Homo sapiens: one gene and its partners. The protein of the gene in region 1 purifies or fractionates together with the protein of each later gene. This does not show direct contact. Each region holds a gene or a part of one and is shown on either strand. Other genes may lie near its edges. The genes, in order: TCL1B, NDE1, ARFGEF1 and ACAD11.

Region 1 (6,974 bases):
TAAGAAAGAAGGGGAAAAAATACTTACTAAGTAGGTCCCTTATCCCACCCGTGGCTAAGTTATTTGAAGAATCCATTCTATTTCCACTGAATCATTTAAAAAAAAAAAAAATCTTAACTGTTTTTTTTGTTTTGCTTTGTTTTGTTTGAGACGGAGTCTTGCTCTGTCGCCCAGGCTGGAGTGCAGTGGCTGGATCTCAGCTCACTGCAAGCTCTGCCTCCCAGGTTCAAGCCATTCTCCTGCCTCAGCCCCCCGAGTAGCTGGGACTACAGACGCCTGCCACCGCACCCGGCTAATTTTTTTGTATTTTTAGTAGAGACGGGGTTTCACCGTGTTAGCCAGGATGGTCTCGATCTCCTGACCTTGTGATCCGCCCGCCTCGGCCCCCCAAAGTGCTGGGATTACAGGCGTGAGCCACCGCACCCGGCCAACTGTTTTTAAGAGTACAGTTTGGTGGCATTAAGTGCATTGACATGTGGAACCGTCGGCACTATCCACCTCCAGAACTTTTTATCTTCCCAAACTGAGACTCCGTACCTGTTACTAACATTAACTTCCCATCCTCGACTCCCTCCAGCCCCTGGCAGCTACCATTCCACTTTATGAATGAGACCACTCTGAGTACCTCATACAAGAGAATCTGTCCTTCCGTGACTGGCATATTTCATTTAGTATAATGGCTCCAAGTTTCATCCGTGTGTCTGACTTTTAAGGGTGAATACTTCATGGTTTGTGTTGTTTACCCATTCATCTATCAATGGACACTGGGGCTGCCACCACCTTTTGGCTAGTATGAATGATACTGCTGTGAACATGGATGTATGAATACATGCTTAAGTTCCGGCTTCAGAGTCTTGTGGGTATATATCCAGAAGCGGCATTGCTGGATTATGCCGTAATTCTTTCTTTGAGAAATCCTCATCCTGTTTTCCATAGTGGCTGCACCATTTTACAGTGCCCTCCATTAACACTTTTTCAGGCTTTTGAAAAACTTAAAATATTTGCTCCACAATTTTTGCATGCTTTATTTAGTGTATGTACAGAAAAGCCTTTCCATGTTCTCTACCAACATTTTTTGAAATAACCTATTTGAACTTTTTTTAGGAAATGTGTTATATTGTTTAAAGTGTCAGTGAACTGGCTGGGCGAGGTGGCTCACCTGTAATCCCAGCACTTTGGGAGGCCAAGGTGGGCAGATCACTTGAGGTCAGGAGTTCAAAACCAGCCTGGCCCACATGATTAAACTTTGTCTCTCCTGAAAATAACAAAAAAAATTAACTGTAAAAAAAAATCGCCTGTAATCCAAGCTACTCGGGAGGCTGAGGCATGAGAATCACTTGAGCCTGGGAGGTGGAGGTTGCAGTGAGCCAACATCACACCAGTGCACTCCAGCCGCAACAGAGCAAGACTTTCTCAAAAAACAAACAAACAGGCAGTGAATTGTTTACGAAGACCTAAACGGCATTTTTTTTTTTTTTTTTTGGGACGGAGTCTCACTCTGTCACCCAGGCTGGAGTGCAGTGGTGCGATCTCGGCTCACTACAAGCTTCGCCTCCCGGGTTCACGCCATTCTCCTGCCTCAGCCTCCCGAGTAGCTGGGACTACAGGCGTCCACCACCACGCCCGGCTAATTTTTTGTATTTTTAGTAGAGACGGGGTTTCCCCATGTTGGCTAGGATGGTCTCGATCTCCTGATCTCGTGATAAGCCCATCTCGGCCTCCCAAAGTGCTGGGATTACAGGCGTGAGCCACCGCGCCCAGCCCTAAATGGCATTTTAAATATCCGGATATGCTTTTACCACATTACACTAAGGTACAGCCAGCCCCCCATTTCCATGGATACTGCACCCATGAATTCGACTAACCTCAGATTAAAAATATTTTGGGAAAAAAAGAAATTCCACAAAGTTCCCAAAAGCAGAGCTTGAAGTGATGTGTAGGTGTAGCATTAGGTGTTATTAGTAATCTGATTTCAAATATAGTAGAGGATGCGCTGAGGTTATATGTAATTACTACCCAGGTCATTTTCTATCAGGGACTTGAGCATCCACAGTCGGTCCTGGAATCAATTCCCCACCGCCACCCACACCAGAAACGCTACTGTATTTACTTCATCCCTCAAAGACTGGCTGTGATCTAAAGCCCTCATCTACAGCCGTTTCCTGAGTCATTATCATTATCACCTGGGGAGCTTTTGAAAAGTAAAGAATCTAGGACTCCACCCAAGCCTCCTGAATTAATTTCCAGAATCTGTTATCAGTCAAATGCTTCCCCAGGCCATTCAGGCGGTGAGCCATGTATGTGAGCATGTCTGTGACTAGCTTGCCACAGAGGTATATTATTCTCATTTTGCAGATCAGTAATCTGACACCAATGTCATGTTCATCCTGTTGGCCCACCTGGTGCCTCCAGGCTGCAATGCTTTTGCTTATACTACTCCTGCCTCCTTTCTAGACCTGGAGAACTCCTACTCATCCCACAAAGCCCAGCTCAATAGCTGCCCCATTTGTGGGCCTTCCCAGCAGGCACTGGGAATGGCACTAAGCCCTGAGCTACCTTAGCCTCGGCTTCACCACGCAGGACCACATTATCTCATGTGGATAAGCTTGTGCCTGTGGTCCCTTTACGGGGGGTGTTCCTGGGGCCAGGGCTGGGCATGGACATTGCTGCGCTCCTAGACCTGCACAGAAGTGAGTTTTCCAGTGCGGGTGAGAACGGCCCCCTCTGACCCCCACCGCGGTCCCACACGGGCAGGGGTCAGTGCGCAGCCCTCCCCACAGCCTCCCCTCGTGCCCAGGACTCACTCTGCTGCCCTGGGAGGCCCTGGCCCATTCCCTACGCGAGGGATTGAACCGCACGACCACAGTCACCCAGGTTCTCCCCTCCTCATCTTCGTAGATGCCAGGCCTCTGGATCCACAGACGGCCAGGGGGCACCCCTAGACGCACAGAAGCTTCGGAGGCCATGGCAAGTCTGCAACCGGGACCCGCCTCTAGGCTCACACGTGTAGCTTTCCAGCTGCGCAATCTCCTTAAATGGAGCAGCTCCGGCGTGGGTGGGGCCCGGGCCGGCAGTGGGGGCGGGGCCGGCAGTGGGGGCGGGGCCAGTCGGGGGAGGAGGGGGAGGAGGAGGAAGGGGGAGGAGGGAGGAGGGAGGAGGGAGGAGGAGGAGGGGGGAAAAAAGCAACCTGCAGCAGGGGCTAGGCAGGGACGAGGCCAAAGAGCAGCGGAGTTAGGAACCCGGCCTGGGTCTCCTGGAGGGGCTGTGGCTGGACCGGCAGCTGCTGGAGGCAAAAGGGCGGCTCCCGGGGATAGAGCTGCCCAGGCTTCACCCCAGGCCTCTGCAAGGAATTTGGCTCCTAAGACCTATTCCACCTCCCTTCCACTGGTCCCAGTCCCTCCGCAGCCTCCTCCCTGAGCACCCCTGCCCAATTTTCTGTCAGGTGATTCCCCTCCTTTGCTCCCCACGACCCCCTGCCAACCATCCTGCCCCAGATCCTGAGCTGGCATGCACGACCCTGGTCTCTCCTATCCCTGTGGCCATTCCTTTAACAGGACTCTGTGTCAGGGACCCTTCTCTGAGCTTAGAGCTTAGAGGCATGGGGGGCGGGGGGCGCTGTAACCTCAGTGGACTCTTGCCCCTGGAGGTATCTGGTGAAGGCGCATCCTGCACAAATCAAGCTCCCTCTCCTTAGAAAATAAGCCAGTGCACTATCAGCATCTGAGCTCAGGATCAGATAAAGCCCACAGAAACAAGGCCACCGGAGGCCACGTGGCCACCTGGCCAGCCCATCCTTGGCCATGGGGCCCAGAGTGCCCACTTGGCCTGGTCGTCTTACTTGCTCGACTTTGTCAAGAGGCCTCAGAAGCTCAAGAACATAGCAAGAAGCAGGTCCGTTCTATAAGCACCCTGGGCTGCTTCTAAATGCACCATGAATAGGAACCTTTTCCTTTTGAAAACCACAAGCATGATTCTTCTAGTTCAAGTGAAGATTAGTATTGAGATGATGCCATTCTGCTGGGGAGATGTGAAAATGATTTCTGGACAGTCCTGATCCAGTGTAAATGGCAGGTAGGATAACCACTTTTGAAGAACTCCCTGGGCAGCTTCTGTGGAGGACTGAGTCTTGTTTTCACAGCAATTCCACCTCCATCCCCAGTGTTTTTCCAAGGAACCAACACTTGGGGTGGGAATGGAGTGGGCCAGGAAGACAAGGGACATCACAGTCTCATATAATGTGATCCATACATGGAATCACGTACGTGTGTCACCTTTGCCATATTCCATTGGTCAGGGGTAGGTCCTATCCTTACTCAAGGTTATGAATACCAGGAGGCAGGGATCATGGGGACCCCTGGTCTCCTGGGCCCCCCTGAAGCCTGTTTGCTGTAGGTACCTACCCTATGGGACTCCTCTGAGGATCAGATGAGGCTGTGTGTATAGTGTTAAAGCCTGACACATAGTGAATACTTGAAATACCCTGGTCAATAGTTATGTTCTCAGACTAGTTCCCTCTCCCAGGCAGAATCCATCATTCCTACCCTTGTAACCCCAATGCAATTGCTATTTATCTCTATCATTTTCTGTTGCAAATATATATTTTGATATTCTCAACCTCACTCCCTGATGGGCAGGTGTGTGGCTGTCAGTGGGGTTGGAGGTAAAGGTTGCCTAATATGTGGGGAGCCCCTATGCCATGTCAGGCATTTTTCATAGGGTATCTCACTAACACCTCCCAACAACTCCATAAACTAGAGACCGTCACCCCCATTTCATAGATGAAGTATCAGAGGCTTGAGTGGCTTAGCAACCTGAATGAAGTGGGTAGCAGAGGAAGGATATGGACCCAGCTGTTCCTGGCTCTAACATGCATGCTGCTTGTTGACTGCCTTGGCCAAGTTTGGCTCATTACATGGAAGAGGCAGAACCTGGAGTAGGGAGATCCACAGTGGCTACTGTAGAAATGGTGGTGGGGTCTGAAGATGGAGACTGAGAACACCTTGCCATGAGTGGGTGGTCAGAAGGTAAGCAGAGGTCTCCATAGGCAGAAAGAAATAACTACCAGTTAGCCTCAAGGTGGAAAATAGATTGCTTCACCGATCACCCTCTTTGGCCAGGTCTCCCATCCCTCAACCCTTGGACCTGGTATGAAAAAAGCCACGGAGCTGCAGGTGACAACAGTTTGGTTCCTGGTCCTTCAGCTGGTCTTTGTCCATGTCATGTCTGAGATAAGTGAGATAAGGCTATGTCTTCTGGCCAAGTTGTCCATCTCTGGTACCTGTGACCTGAAGGATTCACTCTCCGGGGTAGGTGTCACCAATGTCTTTGAGAACCACTTTGATCTCTCCAGAATTGCTCCCAGGATTGCCTGGTACTGATGGTGCACTCATGCCTGGGCCCAATGCTCTCCTCCTCCAGCAGAGGGAGCCCTTCACAAGCCCCAAGCCCTGGGGACGTTGAGGCTGGACACCCACTTGCCGGAAGGATTCCAGACCACAAACAAGGAGGCGCTGTGCAGGGCTTGGAAGGCTGGGTAAGAGTCACTGATACCTCTGCACATTTCTGTTCAGCTCCTCCTAGGTACTGGGCCAAAATGGCAGGGCAGACAAGATGCCAAAGGCAGACAGCCTAGACAGGGCATGGTTTAGATGGAACTGGCAAAGTTGTCCCACCGAGTAAGCAGCATGAGTAGACCTGGAGGAGAGGTAATTCAGGGTGTGTCTGGAGATCAGGAATAATGAGGATTATCCAAGCTCATATGATAAAGAATAAGAATGTGGTGGTGGTGGGGGCAGGGGTGGTATTGATGCTCCATTGTAAGCATCAAACACGCCAGTCCCAGCAGCTGGTTTTGAATGATGAGCAATGAGTGTTTGAGACAAGGAGTGACATAAGTATGCACTTAATGTTAGAACTAATGATAAAACCAAAGAGTGGCTTAGTATCAAGTAGATCATGACTACTAGAGAAAAGACTGGATGGGGATTGTGCAGATAATAACAAAAACAAGAACATCCAAGTTCCAGCTCTGCTTATTTCAGACAGTGAGCAGAGCAAACTTGCAAAGTGGTAAAAGAAAGTCAACCCAACCACGGAACTGAAGAATGAGGGTTTAGGAAAGTTTTGCTTATGTACACTATTTTCTTCTAAAGATTTTATTTAGATTAATTTTTCCATGTTGATATCCAATTAATGCCAATTATTTAAAAGACTATGCTTTGTCTACTGTACGGTATTATCACTTCTGTCATAAATCTGGGAACATTTATGTATGAGTCTGTTTCTGGACACTTTTCTATTCCATTAGTCTGTTTGTCTCTCCTTGTGTTGATACCACATTGCTAATTACTATAGCTTTAAAATAGGTCTTTATATCTTATTGTAAGATTCTGTTTCTCTGGAGAACCCTAATATAGCTATTCTCTTCCCTTTACATATCCATATGCATTTTAAAATCAGCTTGTTAATCCTCCCCACCTCCAAAAGCCTGCTAAGATTGATTGGGATTGTGTTGAATCTATAGGTATATTTGAAGAGAATTAACATCTCCAACATATTAAGACTTACGATCCGAAGCAATTGCATAGTGTATCCTTCCATATTTTGGGTTGTCTTTAACTGTTCTCTCTGATTTCATTAAATTAACTCTTAAGTATTTGATTGATGCTATTTTAAATGTCATTTCAAATTATGTATTATGTTTGTTGCTGTTATAAAAAAATGCAACTGGTTTGTGTGCATTGACACTATATCTAAGACCTAGATAAATTGACTTAACTCTAATAGTTTATCCACTATTTGAGGAAATGTCTTAGCCATTGTATCTTCAACTATTCCCGTCTCATCCTTTCTTTTCCTCCCTTTCCCTCTCTTTCAGTGACTCCAATTACACATTGTCAGACCCTTTAAACAAGTGTACCGTGCTCTCTATGCTCTGTTCTTGTTTTGTTTCCTTTTTTTTCCTCTCTGAGCTT
Region 2 (7,028 bases), on another chromosome or scaffold:
CTAAGACAGAAGGGAGGGAGAAGATGGAGGAAGGGAAAGGGAGAGAAAAGGAGAGGAGAGAGACAGAGAGGGAGATCTTGTTAATTACCAAAGAAACAGTCCAGCGCACTTCTCAATGATTCCCTGTTGCCAGCTGCAGCAATAACATCCATTACATACTTATTCTGTGCTGGCCTCCAGGCTAAGTACACTTCCTATGTTGTCTCGTTTAATTCCACTTCAGAGACATGAACACTGAGACTCAATTACTTAACTAGCCCAGAATCAACCAGTAGCAAATGACTGGGCCAAGACCAAACCCCAGCCTCCTGAGCAGGTGTCCTTAAGCAATTATGCTAACCAGCCCTAAACCATCTCAATCCAGATCACCTGCCCGTTCCCGTGCTCTCTCGATTCTATTCCTGCTCTGCTTCCAAATTACTTTCCTTCACCAAACACCCAGAGCCAGGTGCGGTGCCTCATGCCGCAATCCCAGCACCTCAGGTGGCAGAGGCATATTAGCCTAGGCAACATAGGAAGACTCCATCTCTACAGAAAATTTAAGAACAGCCAGGCGTGGTGGCATGCACCTGCAGTCCTAGCTATGGGGGAGGCTGAGGTGGGAGGACTGCTTGAGGCCAGGAGGTTGAGGCTCCAGTAAACTATGATCATGCCACTGCACTCTAGCCCAGGCCAACGCTTAAAAAAAAAAAAAAAATCACCAGCCTGGGGCAACATGGCGAAACCAAAATACAAAAATTAGCCCGGCATAGTGGTGCACGGCTGTAGTTCCAGCTACTTGGGAGGCCAAGGCGGGCAGATCACTTGAGGTCAGGAGTTTGAGAACAGCCTGGCCAACACGGTGAAACCCCCGTCTCTACCAAAAATACAAAAAATAGCTGGGTGTGGTGGCAAGTGCCTATGGTCCCAGCTACCCGGGAGGCAGGGGAATCGCTTGAGCCCGGGAGGCGGAGGTTGCAGTGAGCCAAGATTGTGCCCCTGCACTCCAGCTTGGGTGACAGAGACCCCATCTCAAAAAAAAATCAAAACCGAAAACACAAAACACCCATCCTAGATTCTACAAACATAAGAGAAAACACTTCCCACAAGAAAGGCGCAAGGTCTAATTTAAAAGTTAAAAAAGGCCAACTTCTCTTTACTCAATCAAGTAAACAAAGCCGTTGCTAGAAAGTCCGGATGCACCCAGGGTGATGTAATGGTGCCTAGGCCAGAGAGGCGTGGCGAGAGCCATTGTGCAAGAAGACTCCAAAGAAAGAACAAACAGATGATTTACAGCGTTGGAAGGATGAGGAGGGCGGACCACATCCCTGCTGCCGCCCGCAGCACCCTCCCCATTTCCTGGCTGTAAGCAGAGAAGTATCTGCACCCAGCAAGTAGAGGCAGACCAGGCCCTGTTCCCAGGCGTGGCTCTCATCGCCTCACACCCTTTATTTGGGAACATCTCCAAATAAAACAGGATCTTAAGTCATTAACCTAAATTCAAACGCAGGCTCCAGGAGGACGCAGCGAGTGGGCTCCACCGACTGCACTGGCGATTGAGAGATCTCCTCGGAACCTGTGGACATGAAAACCTGTTGCTGAAATGTTGTGCTGCCATTTGGGGCTAATTCGAATAAGCTGTCAGCTGATGGGGGCATCAATAGATGCTCTGTTTGGTCCCTTAAAGGCTTTTTCATTCAACCCGTGATGAATAAGCCAGTTGTTAAGAAGTCCGGCCCAGCTGAATATATTTCTCTTAGGTGACTGACAAATACTTGCTGGTGGCAGGGTCCTCGTTATTCCAAGGTACCCTGTTTCTTCACTGTGCTGTGTGCTCTGAGTCTCCTGCATCTGACATGTGGCTGCAGTACAGTGGCGCAATCTCAGCTCACTGCAACCTCCACCTCCTAGGTTCAAGCAATTCTCCTGCCTCAGCCCCCGAGTAGCTGGGACTACAGGTGTGCGCCACCATGCCCAGCTAATTTTTTTATTTTTAGTAGAGACGGGGTTTCACCATGTTAGCGAGGACAGTCTCAATCTCTTGACCTCATGATCCGCCCGCCTCGGTCTCCCAAAGTGCTGGCATTACAGGCATCAGCCACCACGCCAGGCCCAAGAGCTCAGTCTTGAAGCAGAGAATTACTGAGTAATTCTCTTGATATTTTACTCAGGATCCATGGAGGGCCTGTTATCCTCTCCAAACTGCAGTTCATACCACTAATCTTCCTCCTACCCAGCTTTTCAACCCAGAGTCCCCTTCAATTTAGGAACTATAATCAGCCAGGCGCAGTGGCTCACACCTGTAATCCCAGCACTTTGAGAGGCCGAGGCAGGCGGATCACTTGAGCTCAGGAGTCCCAGACTAGCATGGGCACATGAACCCGTCTCTACAAAAAATAACAAAAATTAGCCAGGCGTGGTGTGGCAGGTGCCTGTAATCTCAGCTACTTGGGAGGCTGAGGTGGGAGGATCACTTAAGCCTGGAAGTCAGAGGTTGCAGTGAGCTGAGATCACACCACTGCACTCCAGCCTGGGTGACAGGGGGAGACTCTGTCTCCAACAGCAAAAACAACAACAACAAAAAGAACGATAATCATTGCTCATTGTGTGTAGCAGGTGTTCAGCTGTTAACAAATGGGTGAAGTGGGCCAAGTACAGGGAGAGGCAGATGACACTAAGGTCTCCGTGTCACGGATATGGGGATTGGGGGAAACTCAACAATGTGTGTTCTAAACAACCACTACTCAGGTTTTTTATTTTTTAACTTTTGCTCTGTCACCCAGGATGGAGTGCAATGGTACAATCATAGCTCACTGCAGCCTCAACCTCCTGGGCTCAAGCAATGCTCCTGCCTCAGCCTCTTGAGTAGCTTAGACTACAGGTGTGCACTACCATGTCCAATGAATTTTTTATTTTTATTTTTTTGTAGAGACAGAGTCTCGCTATGTTGCCCAGGCTGGCCTTGAACTCCTGGTCTCAAGCAATTCTCCCTCCTCAGCCTCTCAAAGGGCTGGGATTACAAGTATGAACCACCATGCCTGGCCAGAAATCCATCTTTTTACAGGAAGCTTTACAAATTTTGATGGATGGGGGAATATATATAATAAAAGGCAAGTAAGTAGGGGAAATATTATTGGTAGAGCCTAGGTGGTGGTGGATACACAGGTATTCACTGGAAATTCTTTCAGCCTTATATGCTGGAAAACGTTCATGGGGAAATGCTGAACAAAAACCCCTGAAGGCGATCAAACAACACCTATGGGGCAGATGGATCTGCAGACGGCCAGCTGCACTCTGTGGTCTCCAACAGAAAGCTTCAGCTTCAATGACCACCTTCAACGTGTCTGGGACCTCTCCTCCGCCCTGCCCCAAACCCCCAATCCATTTGTTGGTCCCACACCCTTTCCTATACATTAGTAAAGCTGGGCTTGCCAAGGTCCACCCGACACCCATTCTTGTCCACGTCTGTGATGGGTACAGATCAACTCTCCTTCAGCCCCATCTCCCCAAGCACCAAGTGTCAGCAACACATACACCTACAAACACCCTCCACACAGCCTCCCTCAACCCATGCAGTCCTTTCTTTTTCTTTCTTTTTTTTTTTTTTTGAGACAGAGTTTCGCTCTTGTTGCCCAAGCTAGAGTGCAATGGTGCAATCTCGGCTCACTGCAACCTCCGCCTCCCGGGTTCAAGTGATTCTCCTGCCTCAGCCTCCCAAGTAGCTGGGATTACAGGCACATACAACAACACCCAGCTAATTTTGTAGTTTTAGTAGAGACAGGGTTTTGTCATGTTGGTGAGGCTGGTCTCAAACTCCCAACCTCAGGTGATCTGCCCACCTCGGCCTCCTGAAGTGCTGGGATAACAGGCATGAGCCACCGCACCCAGCCAGTCCTTTTTCTCTTGAAAGGCCCCCACATCAGAGTTCTGTGACTGAGCTTCACGTCCCCAACTGCTTCATGGCATTAGGTTTGTCTTCCCAAAGAAGGCAACCAGCACTTCCCCTTTCACCGTCCATCATACCTAGCCCTGGGCACACACAGTTTTGACTCTTCCATGAAGCAGCTCATCAAAATGTACATTGGGAGTTTAATGAGAAAAAGAAAACCACACAGACATGCCAGGGCCCCACCCAGACTTACTGAGAAATGGAATCTCAGAGCAAGGCGGGGAGATGGGGATGGGGAGAGAGGGTTCAGGCCTGTCGGATGTTTATGAAGCTGGCCTAGTGATGCTGGCTGGCAGCTAAGGCTGAGAGCCAGTCTCTGGGGCACGGTGTTGACTTAGTGATCCCTTGCTGAGCCCTACAGCATGTACAGAAGGGATGGTTTTTACCTTGCAGAGCACTGGGTCTCCAGATACCTGGCTATGTCTAGAGGTGCTTTTGGTTTTCACCACCTTGGAGGTGCGGGGAATGCTACTGGCATCTAGAGGGTGGAGGCCAGGGATGCTGCCAAACATCCCACAGTGTGGTCAGGCGGGGTGACTCATGCTTGTAATCCCAGCACTTTGGGAGGCTGAGGCGGGCGGATCACCTGAGCTCAGGAGTTCGAGACCAGCCTGGCCAACATGGTGAAACCTCGTCCTTGCTAAAAATACAAAAATTAGCCGGGCGTGGTGGCTCACACCTGTAATCCCAGCACTTTGGGAGGCTAAGGCGGGTAGATCACACTGTCAAGAGATCAAGACCATCCTGGAAAACATGGTGAAACCCCATCTCTACTAAAAATACAAAAATTAGCCAGGCATGGCGGTGTGTGCCTGTAATCTCAGCTACTCAGGAGGCTGAGGCAGGAGAATCACTTGAACCCAGGAGGTGGAGGTTGCAGTGAGCCGGGATTACGCCACTGCACTCCAGCCTGGCAACAGAGTGAGACTGCGTCTCAAAAAAAAAAAAAAAAAAAATTAGCCAGGCGTGGTGGAGGGTGCCTGTAATCCCAGCTACTCAAGAGGCTGAGGCGGGACAATCACTTGAACCTGGGAGGCGGAGGTTGCAGTGAGGTGAGATTGTGCCACTGCACTCCAGCCTGGGCAACAGAGCAAGACTCCATCTCAAAAAAAAAACAGGCTGGGCACAGTGGCTCACGCCTGTATTCCCAGCACTTTGGGAGGCTGAGGCAGGCGGATCCTGAGGTCAGGAGATCAAGACCATCCTAGCTAACACGGTGAAACCCCGTTTCTACTAAAAATACAAAAAATTTAGCCAGGCGTGGTGGCAGGCGCCTGTAGTCCTAGCTACTCGGGAGGCTGAGGCAGGAGAATGGTGTGAACCTGGGAGGCGGAGCTTGCAGTGAGCCGAGATCGCGCTACTGCACTCCAGCCTGGGCAACAGAGCAAGACTCCATCTCAAAAATACAAAACAAACAAACAAAAAACCCACAAAGCAAACCTCAGTCCCTCCCAACGGAGGATGATCCGGGCTCCAATGTCAACAGCAGCCAGGTCGAGAAACCTGCTCTGAACTGGCAGAGTGCAACACACCTTTTGGTAATGAAGGAAATGGTCTGCAGCCCCTCTGTCCACTAAGGAAACTCACTGGCCACACGTGGCTCCTAAGCACTTGAAATGTGGCTACTGTGACTGAGGAATTAAGTTTTTATTTTAATTCATTAAATTTCAACAGCCAAATGTAGCTAAGGGCTACAATATTGGACCTGATGATATTACTCTAGCAACACCTCCATACCCTAAAAATGTCTCCCTGGCCAGGTGGTGGCTCATGCCTATAATCCCAGCAATTTGGGAGGCCAAGGCAGGAGGACTGCTCGCGTCCAGGAGTTCAAGACCAGCCTGGGCAACACAGCGAAACCCTGTCTCTATAAAAAATACAAAAACTAACCAGGCATGGTGCCGCATGCCTGTAGTCTCAGCTACTCCCGAGGTTCAGGTGGAAGGACTTTGGTTTTTTTTGAGACGGAGTCTCGCTCTGTTGCCAGGCTGGAGTGCAGTGGCACAATCTCAGCTCACTACAGCCTCCAACCATCAAGTGATTCTCCTGCCTCAGCCTCCCAAGTAAGCTGGGACTATAGGCGTGTACCACCACGCCCAGCTAATATTTGTAATTTTAGTAGAGACAGGGTTTCATCATGTTGGCCAGGATGGTCTCAATCTCTTGACCTCGTGATCTGCCCACCTCAGCCTCCCAAAGTGCTGGGATTACAGGTATGCACCACCTCGCCCGGCCCAGGTGAGAGGACTGCTTAAACCTGAGACGTCCAGGGTGCAGTGAGCTGTAATCCAGCCACTGTACTCCAGTCTGGGCAACAGAGCAAGACCCTGTTTCAAAAAAAAAAAAAAGTCTCCCTGCCATGTGCCCTATAAAATCAGTGTACACAACCAAGAAAGTCCACGGGAACATGTGTGTGACTTGCTTCTCAAAGCTCCACCCATCATGGATCCCGAGGTCAGGAGTTCGAGACCAGCCTGGCCAACATAAAACCCCGTCTCTACTACAAATACAAAAAAAATTAGCCAGGCGTGGTAGCAGGCGCCTATAATCCCAGCTACTCAGGAGGCTGAGGCAGGAGAATTACTTGAACCTGGGAGGTGGAGGTTGCAGTGAGCCAAGATCGCGCCACTGCCCTCCAGCCTGGGCAACAAGAGTGAAACTCCATCTCAAAAAAAAAAAAAAAACAAAACAAAAAGCACCACCCACTAGAGGCACAAAGAGTTCAAAGATCACGTCTGCCGCACAGGCCCTTCCAGAGATGAGCATGGGCCTGGGGTCTGGAGTCCCTCATTGCAGGGTTCCTTCTTCCAGCCAAGCATGCCATGCCTGTGTTGGACGCCTGTCTACACCTGAGCACACTTCCTCTCAGCCCCTCACCTTGATGGTTTCCAGCTCCATGCGAAGGCGGTTATTTTCGGACAGGAGGTCTCTGTTCCTGGTTTCAATTTGTTGCAGCTGCGTCTCCAATTCAGCTTCATATTCTCGGCTTCCCTCCTGGAATTCTCGGAGTTCCTCTTGCGTATTTTCTGCCCTACAGCAAAATTGTTAATCATCACGTAGTAATATTTTTGAAGACAGAGTCTCGCTCTATCACCCAGGC
Region 3 (7,028 bases), on another chromosome or scaffold:
ACATTTGAATGCCCTAAGGAAAGTGGTTTGGCCAATTCTTGGGTAAACTGAGACTATTTGCAAGGTTATATTAAGTCACTTTTAGTGTAAATGAACTTTCTAATCAAATATACTTTACTGGTAAAAATACGTCAAATTTTTCATTTTAAGAACTTGCTTAATGCTAGACAATAATCAGGAAAGAATCTGTAGTGTGCCAATTATTAGTTTTACAAATTAATATTTTTCTTATTCTTAGAATCTCATATCTATCCGGGGTTTGTAAATCTGATAAAATTACAGCAGTATATACTTACCCTAATAATAATATTGAATGTAAACTGGTTCACATGGAGTAGAGGTGGAGGGGAGGGAGAAACATCCAGACTACACTTGTTACTAAACTAAATGATGAAAAATACTCATTTGAATACCCAATTTTTTGTTCCCTTAAAACATAAAAATAGCTAGTACCCCATGCCACATACTTTTCAATTGGAATAAGAACAGTAACTTATAAATTTTTTAAATTGTGTTTTATTTTCCCTAGAATATTCACAGGATCTACAAGGCTAGATGGAAATGCCATTGGTAAGTATGGGCATTTATTCTACTTCGGAACTGGCTTGGGGCTAAAATAACTTTAATGTTGAGCTAAAAAAAAAATGTATTTATATTACAGTGGATTTTGTCCGTTGGCTCTGTGCTGTGTCTATGGATGAATTACTTTCCACGACACACCCAAGAATGTTTAGTCTACAAAAAATAGTAGAAATATCATATTACAACATGGGAAGAATAAGATTACAGTGGTCTCGAATTTGGGAAGTTATTGGAGATCATTTTAATAAGGTATTTGAATAACTATGGTGTTTGTTTACATTTGTAGTATATTTTTTGTTTAGAATGTCCTTGTAATCAAATTGAGCCTTTTTCCCTTCCAAGCAATTATTTATTACTTTTTAATATTAAATTAGAAAACCCTGTGAATGGTGTTTTTCTTTTTAGAAATGATTGCTCTGGGCTTTAAGAATTTGATTTAAAATATCTGTTTTTCTTGTTGAGAAATAGTTTTAGCATACTTAATGCCTTTATGGAAAATCTTAGGATTTACCTATCTATGCTATTCTATACTTTTTCTAAAACAAAAAATAAAGAATTGTAGATTTTTACTGCTGATATTAATTAGCATCGTTTATTTCTGTCGCCATTACAGGTTGGGTGTAATCCTAATGAAGATGTAGCTATTTTTGCAGTAGACTCCTTGAGGCAGTTGTCAATGAAGTTCTTAGAGAAAGGGGAGCTTGCTAACTTCAGATTCCAGAAGGATTTCTTAAGACCTTTTGAACATATAATGAAACGGAACAGGTACTATATTTGTTGAATTGCTTAATAGAAGGAAAATCTTGTTGTTTTCCACAGCAGGGAGAAAAACAGAAGAAAGGGGGAAAAACTGATGAGTTTTATCGGTTTGCATATCCAAGCAATTATATTAATATTTTTAGGTCTCCAACAATTCGAGATATGGTTGTACGGTGTATAGCACAGATGGTTAATTCTCAAGCTGCTAACATTCGATCTGGATGGAAGAACATTTTCTCTGTATTTCATCTAGCTGCATCTGATCAAGATGAAAGCATAGTGGAACTTGCATTCCAAACAACCGGGCACATTGTCAGTGAGTATTCTCTTAGCTGTGTTCAAGTAAAAGGAAAAAAAAAAAGCAACCTTAACGTGTTCAGAAGATGATTCAAGTAACAATAAGATTATGGCCTTTAAGTTTACCAAGCTTTGTCTACAGAACCAGAGTAAATAAAAACAATTAAATTACTATTATAGTTAACATTTATTGAGTATTTACCATATGGCAAATACTGTGTGCACTTTTCACGTAATTTCTTTAATCTTCACAGTTAAACATTATTGTCCATCCCTTTTTTCAAAATAGATTAGGAAACTCAGCCCCAGAAAGGTTAAGCAGTCTATGTAAGGTCACAGAACTAGTGATGGAGATGGTCTTGAGACCCATGGAGTATTAAAGCAAAGCCTTTATTTTTGACCAGTAAGTACATTGCACAGCCTTCTTCAAGGAGGAGTCCCCTTAAGTTCAAGGGGGACTGACTGAAATACTAAGATTATAAGTTAAGCCTATATGGAAGATGACAATGATGACCATCAACATCAAGAATCATGGCATCATCATAGCTATCATTTATTGCGTGCTTGCTTAAGTATTACACTAAGCACTTCACTTATATTATTTTACGTAGTGCTTACAGCTATCTGTGTATATTATTATTATTTCCATTTTATATCAAGAAACCGAGATACAGAGAGGTTAAGTAATTTTGTATATTCATTCAACCAAAGTTGAATCAGTACCTACCGTGTACCAGTCACTGTATTAGGTGCTATGTTTATAATGTAAACAAAACAGACAAGTTTTACTATTCTCACCACTCAGGGCAGTCAGTTAAGTGGTAAAGATAGTCTTGAACTTCGTATCTGTTGGATGTCAGAACCTGTAACAACCTTTAAGAGGAAGTGCATTACATCTAGATGTTGGTGTATTTTTGGTACAGCTAAGAATAATTGAAAAATTATAGTAATATATATTTTTCTCTATTTTAGCCCTTGTATTTGAAAAACACTTTCCAGCGACCATTGATTCTTTCCAGGATGCAGTGAAGTGTTTGTCTGAATTTGCGTGCAATGCAGCTTTCCCAGACACAAGTATGGAAGCAATTCGACTTATTCGCCATTGTGCAAAATATGTGTCTGATAGACCTCAGGTATAGCGTCATTTAGTAAACAAAATTTTGCAGAGTATTCTTTCCAATTTGAAATCTTAAGTTTGTTTGGGAATTGAGGGTATATGAAGCATTTATTTTTCAGTAATTTGAAAAATAATCTGAGCAGCCTGATTCCAAGTTAGGATGGTTAGTGATTATAACTAACCATTATTGAAAGTGTCAGGTATTTTTCTGAGTGTTTTTCATTAACTTGTATTAACTTGTTTAATCTTCTAATGGCTTTATGGGGTAGATAGTGTTATAGCCCCATACAGACAAAGAAACTGAGGCACAGAGAAATTTTAAAATGTGCCCATAGTTTCAGGGCTAGTAAAGTAGAACTAGGGTTTGAGCCCCAGCCTGTGTTTCTAACCATTCCCTACAGTGCATCTTGTCTGTCTGTGCTGTGTAATACTGAAGCTGACTGACTATGGATGAGAATAGGCTTAAGCTCTAAAGTAAAAGGTTGAATTGAAAATCTAGCTGCCATATTTAACTTGTATATTTGAATCTATCTTTGTAACTGTCATAAGAGAAAGTGATGTATCGTAGATTTGGTAATAAGATTTTATTCCGTACTACCATGGACCGATCAGGTGCTTGGTACTTTTTAGATACGTCAACTCATTTCACCTTCATACTTCACCAGTGTGGTTAATGTGGCTGTCTGGTATCATAACCATTTAAGTGATAAAAATGGAAACCTGAATTAACCTGGCTAATAATGCAGAAAGCTGGTGACAGTTGAAAGTGAAGCTAACTTTTGGATTCTAGTCCAGAGCTCTTTATAGGCAGTTATGTTTTGCCTATTTCAGTGGCACATATACTAAAATTGTAGGCAGTTATAGTGTCCATTTTTTATAAATTATTTTTTATTAAATTGCTCACTGGTTATTTGTGAAGCATTTAAATTATTTTTTGAGAAGTTAGTATACTGAATGTATGGGTGTTATGTTTTGCCTTTAATAACCCTACCTTTTTTCTTGAAGGCTTTCAAGGAATACACAAGCGATGATATGAACGTAGCACCTGAAGACAGGGTGTGGGTGAGAGGATGGTTCCCAATTCTCTTTGAGTTATCCTGTATCATCAATAGATGCAAATTAGATGTAAGAACCAGGTAACAATCTATATTTGTAATTAAAATTTTGGATTTATTTTGACTTTAATCAAATTAACTCTTCTTTATAAACACAATCTCACAGTTAAAGACCATAAAATCAAGTGTTTTGTCAAATATATTAATTATTAGGTATATTTTAAAATATGTTAATATGATTTAAAAATATTAACTAGAGCAAAATAAAAATGGAAATACTACATTATTTTTAAAATATTTGATTATAGCCTCCATTTGATTTTAGCTTCTAAGTTAATTTAATCCTTTAAACATTCCGTCTTTTCATATATTTGTTTCCAATAATAAGTTGAAGTTAGTGGCAAAATTTATTTTATTTCCTGATGAATGATAGAAGAATTTTTAACTGCACATCCTTGCTGGGTTTTAGGTGAAGAACCATTTCTTTTTGTAACCTGGTCAGTAACATAGTTTGGAATAATATAGAGCTATTCAAATAGAACTCTTTCAAAAGTATATTGCCAATAAAAGATCATTATGAACATATAGTCAATCTGTAAAGGAACTATTATGGGTATTATGTAACTGGCCAAATGCTAACACACTGTTCTTAGGTCACGGCTCACATGATTCCCATAGTAGTTTTTTTACCCTGTACTTTGCCACATTGAAATGGCCAGCTTGTGTGTCCTAATATCTGTCAACCTCTAAACCCACCGTGAGTTCAATTTTATGGTAAACAAAATCTTTTAGGAATCTTTCCATCTTATTTGGAAGAATCTTCTGTTATTTGGATGTGTAACTTTATCGAATTTTTTGAATTTCTAAAGGTAGCACAGAATGAATCTCTCTTTTCTCACCTTATGCCAGAACCACCCCCATCCCCCACCAAGGTTAAATTTGACTTATATCCCAAGAAATTTTTCATTTTTATAGTATTATTTGTTACAACAGAAATTCGTATGAAATAGATAATCAAAATAGGACTTAACCCTTAGGGATTTTAATTATGAGAGCACTATAGAAAAACATTTTATTTTATATTTAGACATGGTGGATTGTTTATCAGTGGACCTGTTAGGAACTTGTTAAAATTCAAGATAGCCCCATTTCAGCTGTCCACCTGCCTCAGTGGAGCGGCTGACATATCATGACTAGCAGGTCATGAAAACTCAGCACCCTCTCCCCTCACCCTTTATTTATTTGTAGAAGTCTGTTTGATGGAGGATCCACCTGCTTTCTTAGCCTTCTGTTGCTTGGCACTGTGATACCTTATTTCTCACCATATTCCATGTTCAGATTATGGGTAGATTCCAGTTGTTAAAGAGGTTGTGTGTGTTCTAGTTAGTAAAGGAGAGAGAAAAGATCAGTAAACTTTGTTCAGTGATGGCCTTTGATTTTCCTACCTCATCCCAGGATATGTATGGGTTGCTATTTAGCTTCCATCTTAAAATGTGGGCCGGATGCCATGGCTCACATCTGTAATCCCAGCACTTTGGGATGTCAAGGTGGGAGGATTGTTTGAAACCAACCTAGGCAACATAGTGAGACCCCATCTCTTTGAACAAAAAGTTAACTAGGCATGGTGGTCATGCCTCTAGTTCCTGCTGCTCATGAGGCTGAGGCGGGATTGCCTAAGCACAGGAGGTTGGGGCTATGGTGAGCCCTGATCACACCACTGTACTCCAGCCTAGGCAACAAATTGAGACTCTCTGTCTTTAACAACAACAAATAGTGCAGCACTATAATTGGTATAACACTGTGTAGAAAGAATTTCTTGTGTGCATTCTTACTTAATTCTTCCAAAATTCTCTAGATTTGGGGATAAATACCGAAAATTAAAGTCCCAAATATAGTCAGGCATCATTTAATGACAGGAGTATGTTCTCTGCAATGCATTAGTAGGCAATTTCAGCATTGTGTGAACATCATAGCATGTACTTACACAAATCTAGATGGCATAGCCTATTGCTCCTTGGGTACAACCTGCACAGCATGTTACTGTACTGTAGGCAGCTGTTAATACGGTGGTGTTTGTGTATCTAAACATATCTAAACAGGCTGGGTGCAGTGGCTCACGCCTGTAATCTCAGCATTTTGGGAGGCCAAGGTGGGCAGATCACCTGATGTCAGGAGTTTGAGACCAGCCTGGCCAACCTGGTGAAACCCCATCTCTACTAAAAATACAAAAATTTGGCCAGGCATGGTGGCCATACCTATAATCCCAGCACTTTGGGAGGCCCAGGTGGGCGGATCATCTGAGGTCAGGAGTTCAAGACCATCCTGGACAACGTGGTGAAACCCCTTCTCTACTAAAAATACAAAAATTAGCGAGGCGTGGTGGTGCGCACCTGTAATCGCAGCTACTTAGGAGGCTGAGGCAGGAGAATCGCTTGAACCTGGGAGGTAGAGGTTGCAGTGAGCTGAGAGTGCCACTCTACTCCAGCCCAGGCAACAGAGTGAGACTCTGTCTCAAAATAAAAATAAAAATTAAAAAATACAAATACAAAAATTAGCCGGGTGTGGTGGTGCACACCTGTAATCCCAGCTACTTGGGAAGGTGAGGCATGAGAATTGTTTGAACCCAGGAGGCGGAGGTTGCAGTGAGCCAAGATGGCACCACTGCACTCCAGCCAGGGTGACAGTATAAGACTCTGTCTCAAAAAAAAAAAAAATACATACATACATACATACATACATACATACATACATACATATACATATATATATATGTGTGTGTATATATATATATATATATATATGTGTATATATATATATATGCATGGAAAAGGTACAGTAAAAACATGGCATAAAAGATAAAACCTGTAGGCTGGGCATGCATGGTGGCTCACGCCTGTAATCCCAGCACTTTGGGAGGCCAAGGTGGGCGGATCACGAGGAAAGGAGATCGAGACCATCCTGGCTAACACAGTGAAACCCCGTCTCTACTAAAAATACCAAAAATTAGCCGGGCGTGGTGGTGGGCACCTGTAGTCCCAGCTACTTGGGAGGCTGAGGCAGGAAAATGGCTTGAACCTGGGAGGTGGAGCTTGCAGTGAGCAGAGATCATGCCACTGCACTCCAGCCTGGGCGACAGAGCAAGACTCCATCTCAAAAAAAAAAGAAAGAAAAAAAAAAGCAACAACAAAAACCCATATAGGGCACTTACCATGACTGGA
Region 4 (7,028 bases), on another chromosome or scaffold:
AACTTAACCCTGTGTGACCCTTGAAATAATAAAACCCACTGATCAAAATAGATGCTATAATCTTTACCACAAATGAATAATTAACCCTGTGCTCAAACTGCTACAAAAATATGAGATTCAAATGTTGGAGCCAATGAAGTTTGTATAAAGGAGAGTTTCTGCCAGTGGGATGTGGCAGTGCCACCCTCCTTATATCTTGGCTGTCAGTCTTTTGGCTTGGTCCCGCAGCTCCATTGTTGCGATTGCTGAAAGATGAACTTCGTCAGGTCCATCTGCTAAACGCAAAACTCGGGTTATAGCATACCTGAAAAAGCAAAAGAATCAGGGAACACAGGGAGTTATGGAAGAGGAACATGATACTTTGACATCAGTCACTCTGATTGTCAACCAAGACTATATTAATTCTTAAATTCCACCAAGGTCAGGGTAAGAAAAAGGGTACCAGGAAAATAAGCTAAAGGGCTTCTGCAATGCCATCTTAAAGTTTCCAACTTGGGAAAGTTAAATGCCAAAGTACAGTGGAGTTCATCTCATTCTTGGTTTGCTACAGTTTACTACATGTTGCTAGAACTTAGAACAGGCAGTGACTGGTATGATACTATATATTTAGTTCTTTCTTAAGGTTTAAAATTGATGAAGGATGAGACTCTATCTCCATTGTGATAGAGAAGGTGACACTGTAATTATGTGTGGAGATGGACAGATGGGGAATGGAGAATGTTCCTTTCTGCCTCCCAGTCATCAGGATCTATATATTAGATAGTCACTGACATGTCCTGCTACAAATTCAGCGAAACCCCATGCTGTATCTACAGCCCAGGAATCCTCAGTGGGACCCCTCAGTGTAAAAATTAACATAATGGAATGAAATGATTATTGTAATAATAAGAGCAACTATTTCTTGGTGTTGAGCTCTATATTAATGTATATCACTTCATTTAGCCTTCAATTACACTGAAAATAAACATAAGCAATTAATGTCAAGGCATCTGTAGATTTTTTACCTCCACGCCTATCAAACGTAGATGATTCTTAAATGACATCTACTCACATGTTAGCCAGAGGGTAATCCTGGGAAACACCAGCACCTCCGCACACCTGGATGGCCCAGTCAACGATTTTGCTGACAGCCCGTGGGGCAGCCACTTTGATCATTGCAATCTATATAAGCAAAATATGAAAAGAATGCTTCTTTCTTAGACTATACACAATGTGGCAAAACTGGGAAATGAAACAAGGAAACTTTCCCACATCCAAGTCACCACTAAAACAGGATCTTTAACAAAAGCCAACAAAGAGATCCTGCTGCAATGCCATATTTCAGTCAATACAGACCCTCTGGAAAGAGACACCTCTTCCAAATCACATTTTATCCATTTATTTCTAACTTGTCTTGTTTCCAAAAGGATTTCAGGCAGCTGATAAATCACACTCATCACCTTAGGGATCATAAAAATAGTCCAAGGGTCTTTGCGCTATTAATCAGGTTTCTTTTAGCAGTTTTATGGGCTTTTAGAATTAAATGATTATGTCTTTATTTCATATAATCCAGAAACATAAGAAAGCAAAGGATGAGAGGTCTCTTTCATGAAACATTTACTATGTAGCAGTATCATGCTGTGCATTTTTTGTTTTGTTATTTGAGACAGGCTCTCACTCTGTCACCCAGAATAGAGTGGAGTGGCTATTCCCAGGTGTGATCATAGCTCACTACTGCTGCCTCAGAATCCTGGGCTCAAGCAATCCCCCTGCCTCAGCCTCCCTGGGACTACAGGTACAAGTTACCATGTCGGCTAATTTTTTTTTTAAGAGACAGGGTCTCACTATGTTGCCCAGGCTGGTCTCGAATCCCTGGCCTCAAACAATTCTCCCACCTCCACTTCCCAAGTAGCTTGGATTACAGGCGAGAGCCACTGTACGTGGCTTCTGCACATTCTATGTACATCATCTTGGTTACTCTTCACAACAACCCTAGGCCTTAGGCAGAAAAGTTAAGTACTTTGCCCGTGATCACAAGGCTAGAAGAAAGTGGCAGAGTGGGTGCAGTTCCAGGGCTGTGTAAAGCCTATGATTTCCCCCATTCCTTGTTGCTGTATCTTAAGAATGCTGAAGATATTCTCCCTCCTGAAAATCATTCCCTAAAGCACTTGCTAGGAGACTAGCAAGTGACAGGCATTTATAATTTATAACCCAAAATCACATGGGGGCTTCCAATATTCTGAGTGCCATCAAGATGCCATGAAAACTGAAATGTCCAACAGGTGAGAGAACTGGAGAAGGCTCAGCAGTTGGTGGTCTGAGGGGAGAAGGTAGCCTCACCTCTTTCTTAGCGCCAGCACTGCCCAGAGTGTCCATGCTGTGAGCAGCTTTCAGAGTCAACAAGCGGATCTTCTCAATGGCAATGCGGCTTTCAGCAATCCAGTGAGCCACAACCTCCTATAGGGGAGGAAAAGGCAGCAAAAGAAGGAGGAGCTAAGCTGGTATCTGATGTCCACGTGTAACACAGTCTTATAGTTTGGTGAAAACACTCTCTAAGCCAGAGATTGTTCACAAGCTTTACTCTATGTATTTTTAAATGGAAGAGTTAATTCATTTGATATACACCAGCCTAACCACATACTTGTGGAATGCTTACAGTTAAAATTGAAATATTTTAGAAAGAAATTTTATTTTCCCAGAAAAATCATTTATTTTGGATATCTTAATGTCTAAGGTAAAGATGGCTGAACTGAGCAACTGCCTTACCGCCAAACCACTCAAAGGCCCTCCTGAATGCTAATTGCCTGCTGTCATGGAAACTTGGCTAAATGTATGGTAGTGAAGCTGCTTACAGGTAAACTAGAAAATTCTCAGCACAATTTCAGTGTGGGGACAGTTCAGCAGCAATTTGCTGTGTTGTTATTGTTATTTATTCATTAAAAATGACCTTTTCTTTAGTAGACAGTTGAATTATAATACATGTATAGATTGGAATAACCACAGTCAAGAACACAGAACAGTTCCATCTCCCACAGAACTCCCTGGTGCTGCCCCTTTTTAGTCACAGGCTCCTCTCACTCCTAACTTCTGGCAACCATTGATAGGTTCTCCATCACTATAGTTTTGCCTTTTCCAGAATGTCATGTAAATAGAATCATATAGCATGTATTGTTTTGAGACCAACTTCTTTCATTCAGTTTAATGCCTTTGAGTTTCATCCAAATTGTTCTGTGTATTGACTGTTCATTCCTTTTTATTGCTGAGTAGTATTCCATTGTAAGTATGTATCAGTTGGTTTATCCATTTGCCTGTTGAAGGACATTTCGGTTGTTGCCAGTTTTTAAATTTTATTTATTTATTTTTTGAGACAGACTGGCTCTGTCGCCCAGGCTGGAGTGCAGTGGCGCCATCTCAGATCACTGCAACCTCCACCTTCTGGGTTCAAGCGATTCTCCTGCCTCAGCCTCTGAGTAGCTGGGACTACAGGCGCCCATCACCATGCCTGGCTAATTTTTGTATTTTTTAGTAGAGACAGGGTTTCACCATATTGGCCAGGCTGGTCTTGAACTCCTGACCTTGTGATCTGCCTGCCTCGGCCTCCCAAAGTGCTGGGATTACAGGCGTGAGCCATCGCGAGATTATTCATAGAGTTTCTGTGTATTTGTATACGGGTTTTTGTGTGGACATGTTTTCATTTTTTAAAGCAGATAGCAGGAGTAGAATTGTTGGGTCAGTGGTAAATGTTTATTAAGAAGCTGACAGTTTTCTAGAGTGGTTGTACATTTTGCATTCCTACTAGCAGTGTATGAGAGTTCCAGTTGCTCCTCAAACCATCAGCACTTAGTATCATATTTTATTTTAGTCATTTTAAGTGTGCAGAGATATCATGGTTTTAATTTGCATTTCTGTAATGGCTACTGCTGTTGATCCCCTTCAATGTACTGATTTGCCATCTCTATACCTCTTTGGTGATATGTCTGTTAAAGTCTTTTGTCCATTTTTTAATTGGGTTGTTTTCTTACTATTTGATTTAGAGAGTCCTTCATATATTCAGGACGCTAGTCATTTGCCACATGAGAAATCTGTCAATTCTTTCTTTTATGAGCCTTGCTTTTGGTGCATGTTTAGGAACATTTTACCTAATCCCAGAAAATGATTTTTCCACTATGTTTTCTTCTAAAAGTTTACAGCTTTACCTTTTACATTTAGATCTATGATCCATTTAGAGTTAAAATTTTGTGTGAGGTGTGTGGTTTAGATCAAGGGTCCCTCTTTTGCCTATCTATGTCCAATTGCTGCAACACCATTTACTGTAAAGATGTAACCTTTTCCATTGAACTGCCTTTGCACCTATGTAAAAAATTAATTGGCCTATATTTCTATGAATCTATTCCTGGACTCTCTCTTCTGCTCCAAAGATCTACATGCCTTTTGCTCACTGATTACTGTAGTTTAGAGTAAGTCTTAAGATTAGGTAGTGTGATTCACTGAGCTTTCTTCTTTTTCAAATTGTTTTGGCTACTTTAGTGTTTTTGTATTTCCATATAAATTTTAGGATCAGTCTGTCTTTATCTACAAAATTGTCCTTTTGGGACTGTGATTGGAACTGCCTTAAGTCTGCAGATCAATTTGAGGATGGTTAACATCTTTAATCTGTTAGTCTTCTAATCTACATATTTACTTAGGTCTCCTTTGATTTATTATATCACTTTTTTCTACTTTTTAGTGCATGTGGATATTGTACGTGTTTTGGTAGAGTAGTACTTAAAAAAAACTGTTGTAAATGGTATTTTAAAACTTTCAGTTCCCCCATTGTTCATTGCTTGTATATAAAAATAAAATTGTTACGTACTGACCTTGTATCCTGTGACTTTGCTAAACTCACTTATTAGTTCTGGGAGGGTTGTTTCGTTTTGTTTGATACGTTCCTTAGGATTTTCTATACAATCACATTGTCATCTACAAGCAGGCCCAGTTTTACTTCTTTTTTCCCCCAACTACATGCACTTTTTTTCTCTTGTTTTACTGCACTGCCTAGGAATTCTTCTATGATCATAAATTGGAATAGTGAGGGTGAACATTCTTGCCTCATTTCCAGTTTTGGGGGAAAAGCATTTAGTCTTTCATCATTAAGTATGATGTTAGATTTTTAAAAATACTCTCTATAAAGTTGAGTAAATTCCTTTGTATTCCCAGTTTGCTGAAAGTTTCTATCATAAACAGATGCTGAATTTTGTCAAATGCCAAAGCATCAATTGATATGATCATGTGATTTTTTTAATGTTCATGCAGTTTTTGCTGTTAGTTTGGCAGATTATAATAATTTATTTTTAATTATCGAGTTATAGACATGAATCAGGCTTGCATTTGTGGGATAAACCCTACTTGATTATGCTGTATGATTATTTTTACATACTGCCAGATTCTATTCGGTAATACTTTGCTGGTGGTTTTTGCATCTATATTGGTCTATGGTTTGTTCTTGTCTGGTTTTGGATTAGGATGATTCTGGCCTCATAAAATGAGTTGACAAGTGTTTCCTCCTTCTCTATTTCTGGAATAGATATGTAAAATTGGTGTTACTTCTTCTCTAACTGTTTAGTAGAATTTACCAGTAATACCATCTGGGCCTGAAGATTTCTTTTTTCAGCAGCTTTTTAACTTTGAATTCAACTTCTAACAATAGTTGTAGAACTATTCAGGTTATCTACTTCATCTTCGGTGAGTTTTGATAGTTCATGGGATTTGAGGAATTGGTCTACTTCATCTAAATTGTTAACTTTATGTGCTTTGTACACATACTAGAGCGTGTGGGTCCCAAGTCCTAGATCTGGAATGGAGGAGACTCTACTTCAGCCTTGGCTCCAGACCCCATTCTCCAATCCATGTTTTCCCAGAGAGCTCTGCATTGTGGCTTACAGACAGCCTACACAGACTAAGAAAATAAGTATGTCTGATATCCTCTGCTTCTAACAAGGATGGAATCGATATATTTTTCTCTATTCCTTCTGTTAAGTACAACTAATAACCCTGGGCATTATCTATAAAACAAACATAAGAAGACTCTGAAAGGTAGAGAAAAGGCAGACTATTTAGGGACTTCAGGTCCAAAAGAATAACCTAGTGGTGTGTTTCCTAGGTTTTCTTTTTGCCTCATATATCTCAGCTGCTGAGGTTCTTCCCGGCAGCTGAAGAATCTAGTAACCTGGAAATGTCAGTGAGCACAGACCAAAACAAAACAAAAACATAAAGCACCCCAACAAAAGTATAATCTCTCTAACCAAAGGATCAGGAAAGATGCAGCCTAGCAAGCCAAAAATCTTTTAGAGAATAACCACTTTACTCCAGCCAAACACCACAGAAAAAACATTGGCCCCCACCACTCCTCACACCAGCAAAGGCAGGATGGGGAGCGTAGGCTTCCACCCTGGCAAGCACTGTAATGAGGTGCCCCAGCTCCCCTGCCAGGAAGGTATCAGACAGTGCCAAGTAAAAACCTGAGGCTTTCCTCCCCACTGGCCAGTAATAAGTCCCCCCAACCCATCTTATGGGTTGTTAGTGCAGTCCAAATGGGATGCCTGGACTTTCATCCCACCTGGCAGTATGAGGGCATCATCCTCTTCAGGTACTGATGGAAGCTGGGAGGGGAACCTGGACTTCTCTCTCTGCCTAGCAGTAATGAGGTGATGCCACTCCTTTCTCTGACAGAATGGTGTCAAAGAAAGCCAAGAAGGTTTAAAAAGGTCCAGAGTCTCACAGTATAAAACTGTTCAGGTTTCAATTTTATAAATCACCCATAATACCAAAAACCTGGAACAATTCAAAATTAATTTTTAAAAAATAAAGAGACACCGTGATATAGTTTGGATGCTTGTCTCCTCCAAATCGCATATTGAAACATGAAGGTGGAACCTAGTGGGAGGGTCATGGGGGAATATCCCTCATAAATGGTTTTATGCCTTCTCTTCAGTAATGAGTTCACATGAGATCTGATTGTTTAAAAGAGTCTGGGATGTCCCCCCTTATCTCTCGTTCCCTCTGTTGCCACG

Evidence for each region.
Region 2: the proteins of TCL1B (region 1) and NDE1 purify together in Homo sapiens (affinity purification with mass spectrometry; 3 studies listed by BioGRID and IntAct, with this or other methods). This does not show direct contact.
Region 3: the proteins of TCL1B (region 1) and ARFGEF1 purify together in Homo sapiens (affinity purification with mass spectrometry; 3 studies listed by BioGRID and IntAct, with this or other methods). This does not show direct contact.
Region 4: the proteins of TCL1B (region 1) and ACAD11 purify together in Homo sapiens (affinity purification with mass spectrometry; 3 studies listed by BioGRID and IntAct, with this or other methods). This does not show direct contact.

The regions. Positions count from the first base shown.
Region 1 is NC_000014.9:95,682,460-95,689,433, reverse strand, and holds the start of TCL1B (T-cell leukemia/lymphoma protein 1B), read right to left. Parts: upstream 3,009-6,974; 5' UTR 2,967-3,008; coding exon 2,805-2,966; intron 1-2,804. UniProt on the Homo sapiens protein: Enhances the phosphorylation and activation of AKT1 and AKT2.
Region 2 is NC_000016.10:15,667,217-15,674,244, reverse strand, and holds part of NDE1 (nuclear distribution protein nudE homolog 1), read right to left. Parts: intron 6,960-7,028; coding exon 6,806-6,959; intron 1,837-6,805; exon of another isoform or gene 1,474-1,836; intron 1-1,473. UniProt on the Homo sapiens protein: Required for centrosome duplication and formation and function of the mitotic spindle. Essential for the development of the cerebral cortex.
Region 3 is NC_000008.11:67,221,766-67,228,793, reverse strand, and holds part of ARFGEF1 (brefeldin A-inhibited guanine nucleotide-exchange protein 1), read left to right. Parts: intron 1-529; coding exon 530-570; intron 571-661; coding exon 662-831; intron 832-1,195; coding exon 1,196-1,347; intron 1,348-1,484; coding exon 1,485-1,657; intron 1,658-2,610; coding exon 2,611-2,771; intron 2,772-3,760; coding exon 3,761-3,891; exon of another isoform or gene 3,892-4,105; intron 4,106-7,028. UniProt on the Homo sapiens protein: Promotes guanine-nucleotide exchange on ARF1 and ARF3. Promotes the activation of ARF1/ARF3 through replacement of GDP with GTP. Involved in vesicular trafficking.
Region 4 is NC_000003.12:132,558,782-132,565,809, forward strand, and holds part of ACAD11 (acyl-CoA dehydrogenase family member 11), read right to left. Parts: intron 2,437-7,028; coding exon 2,320-2,436; intron 1,162-2,319; coding exon 1,052-1,161; intron 305-1,051; coding exon 190-304; 3' UTR 1-189. UniProt on the Homo sapiens protein: Acyl-CoA dehydrogenase, that exhibits maximal activity towards saturated C22-CoA.